4 linked regions of the Homo sapiens genome follow. The protein of the gene in region 1 interacts with the protein of each later gene in a biochemical or structural test. Each region holds a gene or a part of one and is shown on either strand. Other genes may lie near its edges.

What was found. The genes of interacting proteins can lie anywhere in the genome.
Region 2: the proteins of RAPGEF6 (region 1) and GJC1 interact in a test that uses a peptide from one of them, tested with the Homo sapiens proteins (one large-scale study listed by IntAct).
Region 3: the proteins of RAPGEF6 (region 1) and SLC17A1 interact in a test that uses a peptide from one of them, tested with the Homo sapiens proteins (one large-scale study listed by IntAct).
Region 4: the proteins of RAPGEF6 (region 1) and AKAP10 interact in a test that uses a peptide from one of them, tested with the Homo sapiens proteins (one large-scale study listed by IntAct).

What each region holds. Positions count from the first base shown.
Region 1 is NC_000005.10:131,432,724-131,436,342, reverse strand, and holds part of RAPGEF6 (rap guanine nucleotide exchange factor 6), read left to right. Parts: coding exon of another isoform or gene 1-392; exon of another isoform or gene 393-582; intron 583-2,684; coding exon 2,685-2,913; intron 2,914-3,619. UniProt on the Homo sapiens protein: Guanine nucleotide exchange factor (GEF) for Rap1A, Rap2A and M-Ras GTPases. Does not interact with cAMP.
Region 2 is NC_000017.11:44,799,196-44,802,814, forward strand, and holds part of GJC1 (gap junction gamma-1 protein), read right to left. Parts: 3' UTR 1-3,619. UniProt on the Homo sapiens protein: One gap junction consists of a cluster of closely packed pairs of transmembrane channels, the connexons, through which materials of low MW diffuse from one cell to a neighboring cell.
Region 3 is NC_000006.12:25,829,161-25,833,555, forward strand, and holds the start of SLC17A1 (sodium-dependent phosphate transport protein 1), read right to left. Parts: upstream 2,893-4,395; 5' UTR 2,834-2,892; intron 1,448-2,833; 5' UTR 1,398-1,447; coding exon 1,364-1,397; intron 1-1,363. UniProt on the Homo sapiens protein: Important for the resorption of phosphate by the kidney. May be involved in actively transporting phosphate into cells via Na(+) cotransport in the renal brush border membrane. Plays a role in urate transport in the kidney.
Region 4 is NC_000017.11:19,974,937-19,979,174, forward strand, and holds the start of AKAP10 (A-kinase anchor protein 10, mitochondrial isoform 1 precursor), read right to left. Parts: upstream 2,893-4,238; 5' UTR 2,744-2,892; coding exon 2,656-2,743; intron 1-2,655. UniProt on the Homo sapiens protein: Differentially targeted protein that binds to type I and II regulatory subunits of protein kinase A and anchors them to the mitochondria or the plasma membrane.

The DNA of each region.
Region 1 (3,619 bases):
GCCAGAGCTGCCCCGGAATAGGTGGGGCTTACTTGCAAAAGAAAATCCTTCAGATTACCAGGAGCACAGCCAAAAGAACAGACAGTACTGAGAAGGCCACTGAGGAGAATAGAGACAGGACAAGTTGTGAGAACACAACCAGAAAAAGAATGACATCCCCGTTTAGAAGACTTAGGGAAAGAATGCTTTCAAGGGAGAGACTAGTCAACAGCCAAAAAGAGGACACAGATCACAATCAAGCTACAGAAAGCTGTGAGAAAGTGAAGGATGTTGGAAGCAACATCAAAGATGAGAAAGGGAGTGCCATCTTCAATTCAAATAGCCAAGGCAACAGTAACACTTTAAACTGCTTCTATACGCGATTCAAGTCTAAAAGGAGGAAGACACTCTGATGAAGTTCCTTATTTAATTTTAGTGTTAAGTTTGTTTTCAGTTATTAATGTATACATGGCTTAAATTAAACCATTTGTCAAAGCTTAGGCAGACAACTTAGTAAAATACTATTTATAAACACTTGAAAATGCCTCATTTGTACATAAGTTATTTTACTGATGTATTGAGTTAGTAAATTTTATACTCTTGTTTTCTGTAGTTGACTTTATTTCCTACTGTTAGCTGGATCTGTGAGTGAAATATGTAGAGGAGGCTTTTTTATCTTCTACTTTTTACGTATCTTTGATTGGGGGAGAAGGGACTAGTCTAACATAGCAATATCAGAATCATCTGGGAAACTTGTTAAAAAATGCAATTACTGTGTCCCACCCCAGACTTCATAAACTTGAATTGCCAGAAATGGGATCTGGAATGTTTATTTTAATTGGCTTGCCAGGTGGTTCTTAGTATTATTATATTTGAGAAATACTGATCAAATAGACATAAGAATGAAATTATTTTTTAAACAATGAAGCAAGATTATTGTGTAGAGCAATGACTTTTTCTTTTCAAGAAGAAGGTTTTTATTTATTTTTAATTTACTTATTACATCCACTTTCTTGGTCCTCTTAAAAATTGACTAATCAGCTCATGGACATTGACAAATAGCAGTGATCCCAAGTTCAGAGATGTATGATAGACGTCAGAAGACTGGCTTGTCTTGGCTTACCCTGTTCCTGTCCACGTAGGCCAAATATAAATCACACATTTTCTAGGCCTTTTTCTCTTTGAAATAGTTAACGAAACGACTTAATAAGATTACTGTGCAACAAATTATTCCTTAAATGACTTGAGTTATATGTGAATAACTCCAAGATCCATAAACAGAGAAAGACTTGGAACTAAGGATGTTGTCATCCTCTTTCTGCATGAAGATGAGGCCCTGAGAATTCCAGTAACATACCCAAAGCCTGTAATTCTTCCTAATGACATTTCTAGGTATTGGTCCAAAGGTCACATATCTACTAAACCCTACTTTCCTCTGTGAGCAAGAAGATATTTTTTACTTCTTTGAGACCCGTCCCTTGTTGGGATTACTAGGGCATTTTCTTTTTCTTTTATTTCTAAACAAAAATTTGGTTTCTTCCAGTTATCAAAATAGATTATTATGTACATTAGCCATTCTGTTGCAGATTTGTTTTTGGGTCCTTCACCTCAGTGCGTCCCTAGAATACAGAAGAACATCTCTCTAGTTGTCTGCTGTGCAGTAAGTCACAGAACAACATAGAACATGTAGATGCTGTTTTTTTCTATAACACATTATTAAACATGTATCCACTCAGCTGTTTAATATTCTGCAAGGTTGGTGAAGAAAAAGGAAACTAAGTATGACACTAAGTTTAAACCTAAAACAATTTAAAAAACTGAAACAGGCTGGGCATGGTGGCTCATACCTGTAATCCCAGCAATTTGGTAGGCTGAGGCGGGAGGATCGCTTGAGGCCAGGAGTTGAAGACCAGCCTCGGCAACATAATGAGACCTCATTTCTGCAAAAAGTTTAAAAATAACTGGGTGTGGTGGTGCAGACCGTAGTCCCAGCTACTTGGGGCTGAGGCAAGAGGACCACTTGAGCCCAGGAGTTCGAAGCTGCAGTGAGCTATGATCGTGCCATTGCACTATAGCCTGGCAACAGAGCAGGACCCTGTGTCTAAAAAATAAAAATAATCTAAAACAGTGACTCTCAACTCAAGACAAGACTTCTTAGGTGGGATATGCAGAATATATGGGGTAAGTATATATAGTTTGATAAAGCAAAAATGTAGTTCTTTCCCTTGAGTCCTGGACTCCCACCCCTACCCTTACTTCAAGATGGTATTTGGGATTCAGATCAGGTCAAGAAATATTCATATTAATCAAAGGAAGGAGCGTTGGGTTAAAAAGAAGTTGAGAAACCCTAAAGACATGTACTTATTAATATTTGTAATCTTCTTATTTTATTAAATGATTATAGCTGTGGGAGAGCCTGAGAAAGATATACCTTTAAACTAGTTTTCTGAGTAACACTGGACTTTGACTGTCTTTTTCTTGAATGTGTAGTTGTATTGGTGTGGTGTGGATAGTAGGCAAATGGTTATGTAGGGGAATGTGTGGAGAAAATTGGCACCATTATATCTACATAGATGGAAACTAAAATTGCTTCTACTTTGTCTTCTGTTATTTTTGTGGGGTTTTTTTTTTTCATCCTTTCCCCTACTACCCCCACCATATGTTCCCTTTTTTTGTAGTTTGATCAGTGCTCTTTTCTTGTTCAGGTTACACACTTATTCCATCAGCTAAATCTGACAACTTGTCTGACTCCAGCCATAGTGAGATTTCTTCACGGTCCAGCATCGTGAGCAATTGTTCTGTTGACTCCATGTCTGCAGCTCTACAGGATGAACGGTGTTCCTCTCAGGCCCTGGCAGTCCCTGAATCCACTGGGGCATTGGAAAAGACAGAGCACGCTTCAGGGATAGGAGATCATAGTCAACATGGCCCTGGGTAAGCATCATTGTCTGTGTTCATAACACAAAACCCAAGCCAAGTGGCCACTGCAAGGAGTGCTCCCCACCTTGACCTTGGACCTCCCATGGGGTAATTGCAGAGTTATCCATAAAAGAATATGTGGGCCAAGCACATATTCTCTATTCTGAATATGTAAATAAGCACTATGTTGAAAGATGTATGGGTGTTCATTTTTAAAGTGTTACTAAATTCAAGTAACTTTTTATCATTATGTATCTTTCCAGTCAGAACTCAAAGTGCATCTGCTACTTATATAGGGGAGATAATTTTTGAAATTCTGGCTATAGGTTAATCAAAAAGGTTGTGTTTTGGAAAGTGCCTCGAGTGCTGTGCACATTGTAGACAGGTTGGGAGAGTAGGACTAGCCCTTGATCTCTGTCCTCTGAAAGTGTAATTTGGGGAGTAAGAATAATCACCTAGCAAAGGTTAATTAAAAAAAAAAATCAACTCTAAATTTCTATTTAGAATCAAGCAACGTGGAAATCTTTGAGAAAGTTTATTCTAACTGATAAATATTGTGAAATCTGGTCTACTTTAATATGAAAAATTTAAGATAAATTATTACCACATTTATAAAGATTTCTAAACTAGGATCTCTACACCAGAGGTCAGCAAATGTTTTCTATAAAAGTTACATAGTAAACATTTTAGACTTCACAGGCCATAAGGCCTCTGTCACAAC
Region 2 (3,619 bases), on another chromosome or scaffold:
TGCACTGGATAACTTTTTTCCTCTTTTTTGGCGACAGTCTTACTCTGTCACCCAGGCTGGAGTGCAGTGGCGCGATCTCGGCTCACAGCAACCTCTGCCTTCCAGGTTCAAGGAAATCTCATGCCTCAACATCCCGAGTAGCTGGGATTACAGGTGTGCACCACCATGCCCGGCTAATTTTTGTATTTTTAGTAGAGAGGGGGTTTTACCATGTTGGCCAGGCTTGTTTCAAACTCCTGACCTCTAGTGATCCACCCACCTCAGCCTCCCAAAGTGCTGGGATTACAGGTGTTAGCCACCATGCACAGCCGAGAACTTTCTTTTATTTGGACTCCTGATTTTAGAATACCATGGTTTCTTTTAAAAAAAAAAAAAAGTACGATTATTAACACTGATTAATAACACATGAACCAAACCCACTTAATATCATTATTAAAAACAGGCTGGGCACAGTGGCTTATGCCTGTAATCCCAGCACCTTCGGAGGCTGTGATGGGAGGATTGCTTGGGCCCAGGAGTTTGAGACCAGTCTAGGCAACATAGTGAGAGCTCTGTCTCTACAAAAAATACAAAAATTAGCCAGGTGTGGTGGTGAGCACTTGCAGACCAGCTACTTGGGAGGCTGAAGTGGGAGGACTGCTTGAGCCAAGGAGGTCCAGGCTGTAGTGAGTTGAGATTGTGCCATTGCACTCTAGCCTGGGCTCAAAACAAACCCCAAAAAACAAAACCAAACATCAATAGAACTACATAGGGACAACAGCAAATACAAATCTTTAAACACTTCATGATGTGGCCGGAATGAGTACAAGTATGCAATTCAATGATTCCAACATTTGATGGTGACTGTGAATTATTACATATTTATTACACATAAATGAGTTTAAATTTTATTTCCAAACTGCATGCAGGGACTTTATTATTACTATGAATTTTTTTTTGAGAGTTTCACTCGTTGCCCAGGCTGAAGTGCAATGGCGCAATCTCGGCTCACTGCAACCTCTACCTCCTGGGATCAAGTGATTCTCATCTCAGCCTCCTGAGTAGCTGGGATTACAGGTACCCACCACCACGCCCGGCTAATTTTTGGTATTTTTAGTAGAGACGGGGTTTCACCATGTTGGCCAGGCTGGTCTCAAACTCCTGACCTTGTGATTCGCCCACCTTGGCCTCCCAAAGTGCTGGGATTACAGGCGTGAGCCACCATGCCTGGCCAAAACCTTTGATTTTTAAAAAGGCGTTTCTTGAAGTACCTTATTAAACATTTGATTTGAAGGAAACTGTGCATGTCTAACATACTTGCCTTTTACAGAAAGCTGGCTAGCCAAAAATGTATCATCAACTATCGATTTTATTTTCAGAAGTGGACTGTCTCTTAAATGAGACAGCATAAAGTATGGACTTGTAGAAGCTGAACGAGTAAATCATGAGTGTAACTGATAACATGTAAGTCCATTCTTCGTATAAACTGCTAGAGAGTGTTTCAGACCATCACTGATGTCTGTGATAAAGAGCACCAAAGCATCACAGTCCAACTTTTTTTTTAAGCGCCAAGTTCAAACAAGTGACCAATAATAATGGTTGGTCCTTGAAGGTCTTTTACCAGAGGCCTTTTCTAATCACTTCGTAACACTTCTGAGATGTACATGGCTCCTGAAACTTGAAAACAAAGCCACAAAATGAACATTAACATTTCTTTAGGGGAAAATGCTATCTAATTTTCCCCTCGTTTGAATTAACCAAAAAAAAAAAAAAAGCCTATTTCTTTTACAAATCTTCTGAATAACGGGTTTTAAGAGCAGGCCAGGCGCGGTGGCTCACGCCTGTAATCACAGCACTTTGGGAAGCTGAGGTGGGCGGATCACGAGGTGAGGAGTTCGAGACCAGCCTGCCAGCCTGGCCAACATGATGAAGCCCTGTCTATATTAAAAATACAAAAAAAATCAGCCTGGTATGGTGGTGGTGCCTGTAATCCCAGCTACTCGGGAGGCTGAGGCAGGAGAATCGCTTGAACCCAGGAGGCGGAGGTTGCAGTGAGCCGAAATCACACCACTGCACTCCAGCCTGAGCGACAAGAGCAAGACTCTGTCTTAAGAAAAAAAAGAGCAAAGGACACACCACATCTGCATAAATCCAAGTGTGTTAAGGAACATAATCATGTTGATTGTATCCTGATTCTAGCAGGTGAAGGACTAAGCACTCAACTTGTATTTGGAGGAGAAGCAAGTGTCATGATGGAGCATGTCTTATATGGCAATTCAAAACAGTATGATTCTGATGCGAGTGAGAACTAAATGTTGGACAGGCTTTTTATACAAATCCCACCTGCATGATCCAGAACAATATTCTTACAGATTCAATGCAGACTCCACCAATGGGTTAGCTAGACATCAACAGGCTCACTTTCTTTTTTTCTTTTTTTTTTTTTGAGACAAGAGTTTCACTCTGTCTTGCAGGCTGGAGTGCAATGGTATGATCTCAGCTCACTGCAACCTCTGCCTCCTGGGTTCAAGCAATTCTCCTGCCTCAACCTCCCAAGTAGCTGGGATTGCAGGCGTCCACCCAGCACTCCTGGCTAATTTCTGTATTTTTAGTAGAGATGGAGTTTCACCATGTTGACCAGTCTGGTCTTGAACTCCTGACCTCAGGTAATCCACCCGCCTGGGCCTCCTAAAGTGCTGGGATTACAGGTGTGAGCCACCGCGCCTGGCCCATTTTCTTAATGTAAGTCCACAATATGTCATTAGGGGAGAATGACTTTGGCAAACTCATATGCTTCAAAGGCAGAAAGACATGTACTAAGAAGGCAGTTAGAGCTGGAAAATTCTTGACATAATTACAACTTTAGCAAGAGAATAAAAATAGATTTTAAAAGTGTGTGCATGTGGGGAGGTGACAGAATATCTTTATATGTACTTTAAGAAGCTGACGCGTTATCCAGACACAAAAGATAACATTCTCATCAAAACAGGCCAAGATGAAACACCAGGGGCACTCTTCACAGAAATTAAGTGGATGCTTCTGGCGCCAAATGTCTTTGCCTGGTTCTTCCTGGCATTTCTGCTTGACTCCTTCCCCCTGTATCATTCTCAAATCCCCAGCCTTTCCACTGGGCAAAGCCACTCTCTTCTCCCTCAGGCTCTGAAGAGATAACACAAATGTATGGACACTTTTTGTCCTTCAATTAAAAAACCTGCTGGAAGCTCCAGTGATGTTAAGAATTAACTGGTAGTTCTTTATCTTAGCTAGGCTTATGTATTCCAAATTTTGCCTGTTTTCTTGGAATTATATGAATTTCCTTATTAAACATTTGATTTGAAGGAAACTGTGCATGTCTATTAATTACCCATGAGGTACATGTGTATTTCTGAAATTTCTCCTTCAGTCTCACCTGAGTTTAATTTTTGCCTAAGATGTTTAGAGTTCCTGAGGTGCTTCTCTAGGCTAAAATTTAAAGATTTTTTTTTAAAAAAGCAAATAAAAGTAAATGAATGGCTAAAAGATAAGGTTAAATTTTCTAGGCTGGGCATGGTGGCTCACACCTATAATACTAACACTTTGAGAGGCTGAGGCGGGAGGATCACTTGAACCCAAAAGTTCGAGACCAGCCTGGGTAACATAG
Region 3 (4,395 bases), on another chromosome or scaffold:
TGGGATTTTTGGCCTTCCATGATATGGGGACAACAGGAATCAAATACCAAGGTCCTAGCGATGCGATAGTGTATAGTAGGAGACCCTCTCCTAAAATGCTTGGATGTCAAAGATTTACATGGTTCAATGGAGGATGAACACATTGCCCCCTTATCTTGTCAGTGGACTGCCAAGAAATTTTGTGCCATATGAACTTAAGAGCTGAATAGAAGGGGGTAAAAGAATACCCCTGAGAAATTTAATCATCAGCCAGCCCTTCCTTTGATTTGCTGCCTAAACTCAGTATCATAGGGAAGTGAATGGATCTAGAAAGCTATCAGAAACTTTGTAAACACACCTGCAGGAGTCTCTACATGGTAAAAGGGAAGTCATTGTCACCATGTCAGAGAAGGGCTCATTGTCTTAGTCATTTAGGGGTATGCTTTTGAGTTTTACTCATTTCTCTCCTCCACATTGCTCCAGGAAGTCCATGAATTATGTCTAAACAAGTTTTAAGTTAAAAAGAAGACCACAGGGGGAATTCTAAAGTGTTTGGGATTGAGTAATAAGAATACCGCATATCAAACTCATGGACAGAGTAAAATGTGCATCTGTAAATATATTTATCAAAAAAGAAAGAATTTAAACACTTGGAAACTGAGCAAAGGAACAAACCCAAAAAGTCTAAAAGGAATTAAATGCATAAGGGCAGAAATGAATAATATATAGAAAAAAACATATATATATAAACTTTGAATGCAGATTAAATGGACAACTTAAACAATCAAAATAATTAAGTATCAAAGTTGATACAAGAAGAAATACATAATTTAATATACAGTAACTTTTTCATAAGTTGAAAAAGTATACAATCTATCGCTCATCTCCTTTTCTGGGATTTTGTCCCCTATGACATTGACACAACGCTAAACCAATAGCAGTAATCCTTTATTGTCATTACACTACCCTGCCTAAAATAAACAGCTTCTCTCAAAAAATATTCAGTACACATTCAGCTGTTGATGTCCAAGAATGCAGGGACTCAAGAACATTCATCCTGCCTTACTTCCACTTACAGATCTATCTCTCTTTCTCTTGGAGATGGAACCAAAATAGCCCAGTTTTTTCTGATATTTTCCACTAAATGATAAACTGACAAGTGCGCAAAAATGAAAATAAAGTGTAAGCCACCAGAGTATGTAGAATCTTTTTATTTAGGGCTTTTCTGGTGGAAAACCATAGTAGGACTGGTTTCTTCTACCTTCTTTTCTGAACATTTTTAAGACCCCATATGTATATCACAAAAATATTCTTCCACATGGAATCTGTGATGTAATATTTAAGAAAAAGAACACCTGTTTAATGGAACAGAATAAAGTGCTACCTTTTTTGGGAGGCAACCGGTTATCCATTTGCATACACGGCTGAAGTTGCTTCTCTTCTTGCTGAAGGGTTTTGCCTCCACCCACTGTGAGTGCAAAACACGTTGATGTCAGCATAATGTAGAGAGGCAACTGACCAAACACTACCCAGTACTCCTCTCTGATTTAAAACCGCTTCCAAGGATAACTTGCTCCATCACAGCAGTGCCCATTCACCTCCATTATGTGCTTCCCTTGATATTTATTTTACTTTTGTGATTGTTTTGGTTGATTAAAAATATATGGAAGACCTGAAAACTACAGAGAACAAACAAATAACCCTGCCAATCCAGAATTCTAAATCCGTGATAATATTCCTCCAAAGTGAGAAATGGAAAGAATTCATTGCCAGTAGACCTGCCCTGTAAGGAACACTAAAAGAAGCCTTTCAGGCAGAAGGAGATTGCTATAGGTCAGAAACTCGGCAGTATGAAAAGAAAGGAAGAATGTCAGAAAAGGAGTAAGCAAAGGTAAAACAAATTCCTTTTTTCCCCCTGTATCTTAATAGAGCTGGAAGATACTATCTGCTTATTGATAAGATCAACTCAAGCAGAGGCTAATCATTCGTTACACGTCCACATGCCCCTGTCCGTATCTTCAGTTTCCGTGGATAGAGCAGCCACTGATGCAAAGCTTTATGGCAGGAAGCTCAGTGGAGAATCAGAATGGAGCAGTCTCCTATCAGGCAACCCCTTACCATCAGAATTCAGCACCAATATGTGCTGGTCAGGTTAGACCTCAGGATTTTACCATATCAGATTATATGATACCTAGTGCCCCAAAGATACCAAAGTCCTGAGATTGGATTTGCAAAATATTTTTGAATAAGCAATTTGTCAACCATCATTATCACACATTGGAACCTCTTCTGGGGCTGCTGTTTATTTCAATACATATATACATACACACCAAATGCACACACAAACCACCCATACGTATGCACCACATACATACATACAACATAAACACATGGTACAAACTCCCCTTATGTTCTCCACACATACACTCCAGACACATAGCAAACCAAACATATAAATACGTTACAATACTGCATCCTCAAAACGGAAGTACAAACTACAAACACCACACACATAACCACACACACACATAAATGATGGGCACAGATGCACCAGGCGTACACAGTGTGCCACACACATTACAGACACAGCACACCACAGCTATACAAGCATCACACACTGTACAACACATACTTCTCTTTCCTTGTGTCCCTGTGAACCTCACACTGATTGCTAAAAATATGTTCTTTTTTCTCTTGTGAAAAGCCTCAGAAGATAGGGCATATTCCACCCCTCCCCACATTTTCCCCTATTGCTAAGTACTTTCAATAATATCTTTGCCAGGGAATGCCCCCTTACGGCCCTCTGGGGAATCAACTGATTGCTCATTTCATTTAATGAGCCCCGTAGACTAACCTGATTCGGGACAAAAAAGTGATTTCTTCTTCCGCTGTGAAGACTTTTCTCTCAACTTTACACAATATTGACTTTCTAGGATTACCAAGTTTAGCCCCATAAATCATTCACCAAATCTTTTGACATCACTGTGTCGAAGTTAAAAGCTTAATTTTTAACTTTACTGTTACCTTTTCCTTAAAGCTTCAGGGAAGGTGTGTGGGTCAAAATCATCCAGTGGACCAGAAACTGGGAATCTGCCAGTAATTTCATGGCATAATAAGCAGACACCCTTAGTCTCTCTCCCTGCCCAGGAGGTAGAGCTTGCCTGCCATAAGTGCTCTCAAGATTTCTCTATTAAGGATGGCTCTGAGTATACAATGCTGTTCTCACAGGAATGTTGTGGCTTTCTAAATGCCCCATAAATGCCATATTAAATTTTTACTCTTAATTCCCTTCCTTCCTTTCTTCCTCCTTTTCTTCCTTTTTTCTTTCTTTCTTCCTTCTCTTTCCCTTCTTCCTTCTCCCTCCTTCCTTGCTTTCCCTCCTTCCCTCACCCTGTCTCCTCCACACTCCTCTCTAAACAGTACATCTGTTTGACATTCAGCATACTCAGAAAGAGGTACATTTTATTGAGGCATGTCCTCTGGAAGGTGTGGCTTCTCTCATGGCTCTTCCTGCAATTACTGTAGGTTCTGGTTCATCCACTTGGTTATAGCAATATCCAGAAACATTAAAAAAAAAACATAGAGAGACAGGATCTCACACTGTCACCCAGGCTGGAGTGCTATGGTGCAATTATAGCTCAGTGCAGACTTGAACTCCTGAGCTCAAGGGATCCTTCCACTTCAGCCCCAAGTAGCTGGGATTACAGGTATGCAACACTGTACCCAGCTAATTGGTAGAGACAGGGTCTTGCTGTGTTGCCCAGGTTGATATCAAACTTCCTGCCACAAGCAATCCTTGTGCCTTGGCCTCCCAAGTGTTGGAATGACAGGCGTGAGCCGTCGTGCCTGGCCCCTAATACTTTTAACTTAGAACTCTTTGAAGGTAATCTACTAATTACTTAAAAATATCCAAGCACTAAAATCAGTGATTTTGCATTATAGGTAATTTATTTCATGCTTAACAAGTTTTTTTTTAATTTTTATCATGCTTTTAAAGTGCTCATTAAATGTTTGGCACATAGCAGATGCTCTGTAAATTCAACCAGTTATTTTTTTCCTCTAAAGAAATGTTGTAAATCTTTAACCCCTTTGCCCAGGAGACTTTGATGTTGTTATTCAGTTAGATTTTTTCTTTTTCAAAAGTCCAGATTCTGCTGGTCCTCTTCTGTGTGTTGCAGAATGTTTGTACTGTCCTGTTTCATGCTGGGCAATTTCTGGCATTTTCTGAAAGAGGAGCCCTTTTAGTGATTGAAACCCCTAGGTCAGCAGTTGTTCAAAGTCCATGTGTTAAATAATAACACTCCCATCTGCCATCAGTATCCCAGTTCTGGATACTGATTACCTGAAGGAGAACCATCTTTCTGTTTGCTGGCCCCAAAGCTTTCTGCTGCTCTGTGAGATTCTTTGAAATTGTTT
Region 4 (4,238 bases), on another chromosome or scaffold:
TTGATTACAGGCATGAGCCACCATGCCCTAGAATGATCTTTTTAAGATATAAGTTCAGATCACTCCTCTTTCAAAATTTTAAATTAATATTCTTTCTGTATTTTGTTTGACACATGGTCTCACTTTGTCATCCAGGCTGGAGTGTAGTGACTCAAATATGGCTCATTGTAGCCTCCACCTCCTAGGCTCAAGTGATCCTTCTGCCTCAGCCTCCTGAGTAGCTGGGACCACAGGTGTGCACCATCATACCCAGCAATTTTTTAAATGTTTTGTACAGGTCTCATGTTGCTCAGGCTGGTCTTGAACTCCTGGGTTCAAGCTATATTCCTGCCTCGGCCTCCTAAAATACTGGGATTACAGATATGAACCACCATGTTTGGCATCTCGGCATTAGGAATAAAACCTAACCATGGCCCGTAGAGCTCTCAATCACCCAACACTTGCCTACATCTATGCTCCAGTCACAGTAGCCTTCTTTCCTCTCTTGAAGGGCACCATGCTCTTTCTTGCCTCCTGGCCTTTGAACATGCGATTCCCTGGCCTCTCTAGTTACCTCCTACTGATCCTTCAGCTCTAAGTTTCAAGGTCACCTGCTGAGTCCTCTAACATCTAACCAAAATGCATTTCTCCTCTTAATCTTTCATAACACTTTACTCAACTTGTAAGTATACACCTATACACACACACTTACATGGAGCGAAAGGGAGAAGAGAGAAGATTTGTTTGCTTATTTATTATCTGTCTACCCCAGTAGACAATAAGCTCCATGGGTGCAGGGACATTCTCTGGTTCACTACTCAATCGTGAGGGCCTAGCACAGCACCTGGCAGACTCTGGACACTCAAAAGGTATTTGTTGAATAGAGACAACAGTCTCTTGTGCAATATGCAGTTTGCCTCATTATTCTTAGAATGTTTTCCCCCCTTAAAAAAACAAAAGTTAACCACTTCAATACCAATAAATTAGAGAGCTATTAGGTATACCCCTGCCTTACCAATAAAGCTTCCTCCTACTATTTTACCGGTTTCATTCATTAAGCACTTTCATGCATTCATCACCTGGCATCAGTTACCAAAACCGTGTACCCACTTAAGAAGAAGTATTTAAAGTCATTCAGAGTTCAATGGGCCTTTGGGAATCATCTAATTCTCAGCTGACAGAAGACAGAAAAGTAGGTTAACTGGTCTGCCCCTGTTACAGTTAGCAGCAGAGCTGTCATATGAAACCAAGTTCGATTTTGTTTAGTGCTTTTTCCAAAACCCATTTCTGGCTGGCCGCGGTGGCTCATGCCTGTAATCCTGGCACTTTGGGAGGCCGAGGTGGGAGGCCCACTTGAGGTCAGGGGTTCAAGACCAGCCTAACATGGTGAAGCCCCGTTTCTACTAAAAATACAAAAATTAGCCGGGCATGGTGGGGCATGGGTAATCCCAGCTACTTGGGAGGCTGAGGCAGGAGAATCGATTAAACCTGGGAGACAGAGGTTGCAGTGAGCCGAGACTGAGATCGCGCCATTGCACTCGAGCCTGGGCAACAAGAGCGAAACTCCGTCTCAAAACAAAAAAAGAAAACAAAACCCATTTCTGTCTGGTACTTTTTTTTTGAGACGGAGTTTCGCTCTTTTTGCCCAGGCTGGAGTGCAATGGTGCTATCTCGGCTCACCGCAACCTCCGCCTCCCAGGTTCAAGCGATTCTCCTGCTTCAGCCTCCCAAGTAGCTGGCATTACAGGCATGCGCCACCACCCTGGCTAATTTTGTATTTTTAGTAGACACGGGGTTTCTCCATGTTGGTCAGGCTGGTCTTGAACTCCCGATCTCAGGTGATCCACCCGCCAAGCCTCCCAAAGTGCTGGGATTACAGGCGTGAGCCACCGCGCCCGGCCTCTGTCTGGTACATTTTATCTGAAGCAACAGGAATTGACAGGAAAAATCACTGCTGTCCACAGACCCATACTTGCTCACTTCGGATATGTATTTTTAATGAAGTGCAACAACGTTACCCAGAATCAAAATTAAGCTGTTTCTACGTAAACATTGGGCAGGTAATACAACTGGAAATCAAAAATGTAAGTAGTTCGTTTGTAAGTTAGGGTTCCAGTAGTTAGCAAACTTGCCAAAGTCATCAAAAGTAGTGGTCTTCCTGTTGGGGAACTTTAGCAATAAGTAATTTTATTTTAGTAACAGCAGTAACTACCCCTCCCCCCAAAGAGGAAATTGGAAGACAGCACTGGGTGAAGAAAACAATTTTTTCACGTGTTGCTTTTAGACATAAAACCCTCAACATTTGGAAACTTCAGACTTCCATAATAAGGTTCTAAAGAGATTTCCTTGATCTTGATCCACGGTCCTCAAAGAAACACAAAAAAACTAACCCCCACCTAAGAACTGTTCTTAACCAAACAGGCAGGAACTTCTATGGGCTTTAGCAATCGCTTCTGAACCAGCGCGACAATACTCCTCTGACCTCGCGCAAGAAGGCCACCTTCTCCCTCCCAGAAGAGTCCCGGAGCAGAGCAAGGCACTCAGGGGGCATCTGCGCCGAGGTCGAGGCTCGCTGAAGGCCTTGCTGCCGCCTTGGGGAAAGCCCTCGCAGGCCCACCTGCCCCACCGCCGCCCCTGAGGCCCGGCCTGACTCCCCGCCGGCGCCCCCTCAGCTACCTTTCCGCCGGAAGAAGGACATGGCGGGGCCCGGGTCGGGACGGAGGGTGCGGGGGGACTGGCGCGGGGAGGGCCCGGCTCCCCTCATTCAGCAACCGGCCCGGACTTCCGGGTCCAGAGGGGCCGCTGCACTAGCGCGAAAAGGGACCCTTCTTCCGGGAGTGGGCCCCACCGCCTCCTCGGGATGCCCAGGCAGCTCCAGCCGCCATATTATCAACAAGCCGCCCGCCCGGAGTTCCGGTCCTTCCCCGCGCTAGGCTTCACGGGAGGTCAAGCGCCGGCCCCGCCCCTTTTCCCCATCCCCCTCCCGCGGGTGCAGGGGCGCACGCCCGCATCGCCCACGTGACCCGCGCGTGCTACCCGCGCCTCTTTCCCGGGCCCTGGGTGCCTGGAGCGAGCCACCGTTCCTGCAGCTGTTTTGTGGCGTCTGTCGCCGGCCCCCGGTGGAGCGCTGCAGACCCAGTCTCTGCAAAACTAACTCCCTGGGGCGGGAGCCCTCCCAGCAGCTGGAACGGGGCGGGCCTTAGGTCCCCGGCTTCCGGCCCCTGGGTACCCTTCAAATTGTGCCCTTCTAAAAGGCAGGGTCAACCCTGCCACGCTCCAGCTCGACCCCTCCTGCTCCTCCGTTTGAGTTTTGCTCACAGGCGCTGGCCGGCACGAGCAGCTTCACCCTGCACCCCAGTCCCTGCTTCCTCAGGAGAACCCGCCACGGCCTGCGGGTTCGAGGCGATGCAGAACCCTGATTAGGAAAAGGCACAACCTGCCGCATGCGGAACCAGCAGCTCCCTGGATCATTAGCGAATGAAAAGGGGAAGCGGGCTTATTTCGGAGTGCAGTCCCTGCGAATGCTCAACTTTGTAAGGGACTGCAACATAAAAGCCTCGCCAGTATTTAAAAGCTAGCTCCAGTGAATCATCCTTGCTCAAATGCCATTTTCCTGTGAATCTTCTGACCCTCTACTCCCAAAGCAAAATCAATCAAGCCTCCCTGTCTTTGGTGCTTCTTAACACCCGGCGAGTGCGCTCAGCGGCTGAGGTTGTAACTGCTCCCTGGGGTTGGGGTTGGGGAGGGCAGGAAGGTAATAGTAACTCAATAAATGTTCGCTGGGGTTTTTAAACCAATGAAGTTTATCATGTGACGGATGGGGAAACAGGCCCAGAAGAGACAACTAGCCCAAGATTGTTCAGAATGTTAGAAATACCAAAATTGTTAGAAATAGATAATCGGTGCCACGAAGAAAAGTCAGCACGGAGACAAAAGATCTCCAGCAAGGCAATCTTTACTTTCTGCAGAAAGGGTGCTCAATCGCAGATGGAACGATGTCGAGAGCACACCTGAACAAAGGAAAAGCAAACATATTTATCCCTTACGCATTTGGGTCGTCCTCACTGCTATGTCCTGCATCCATTGGCTGGAGCGGGACCTCACACTCTTAAACTGATAGCCGATTTGCTAATAGCCTAAAACTTTCTAAATAGGTAAGTGCAAGGAAGAACGAAGAAGGAGAGGAAGTTGCTTACCGAAAGGTTTAAGGAAGCAATAACATTTCCAAATAAGGAAGGGGCATAGGCTGTGAACTGGAA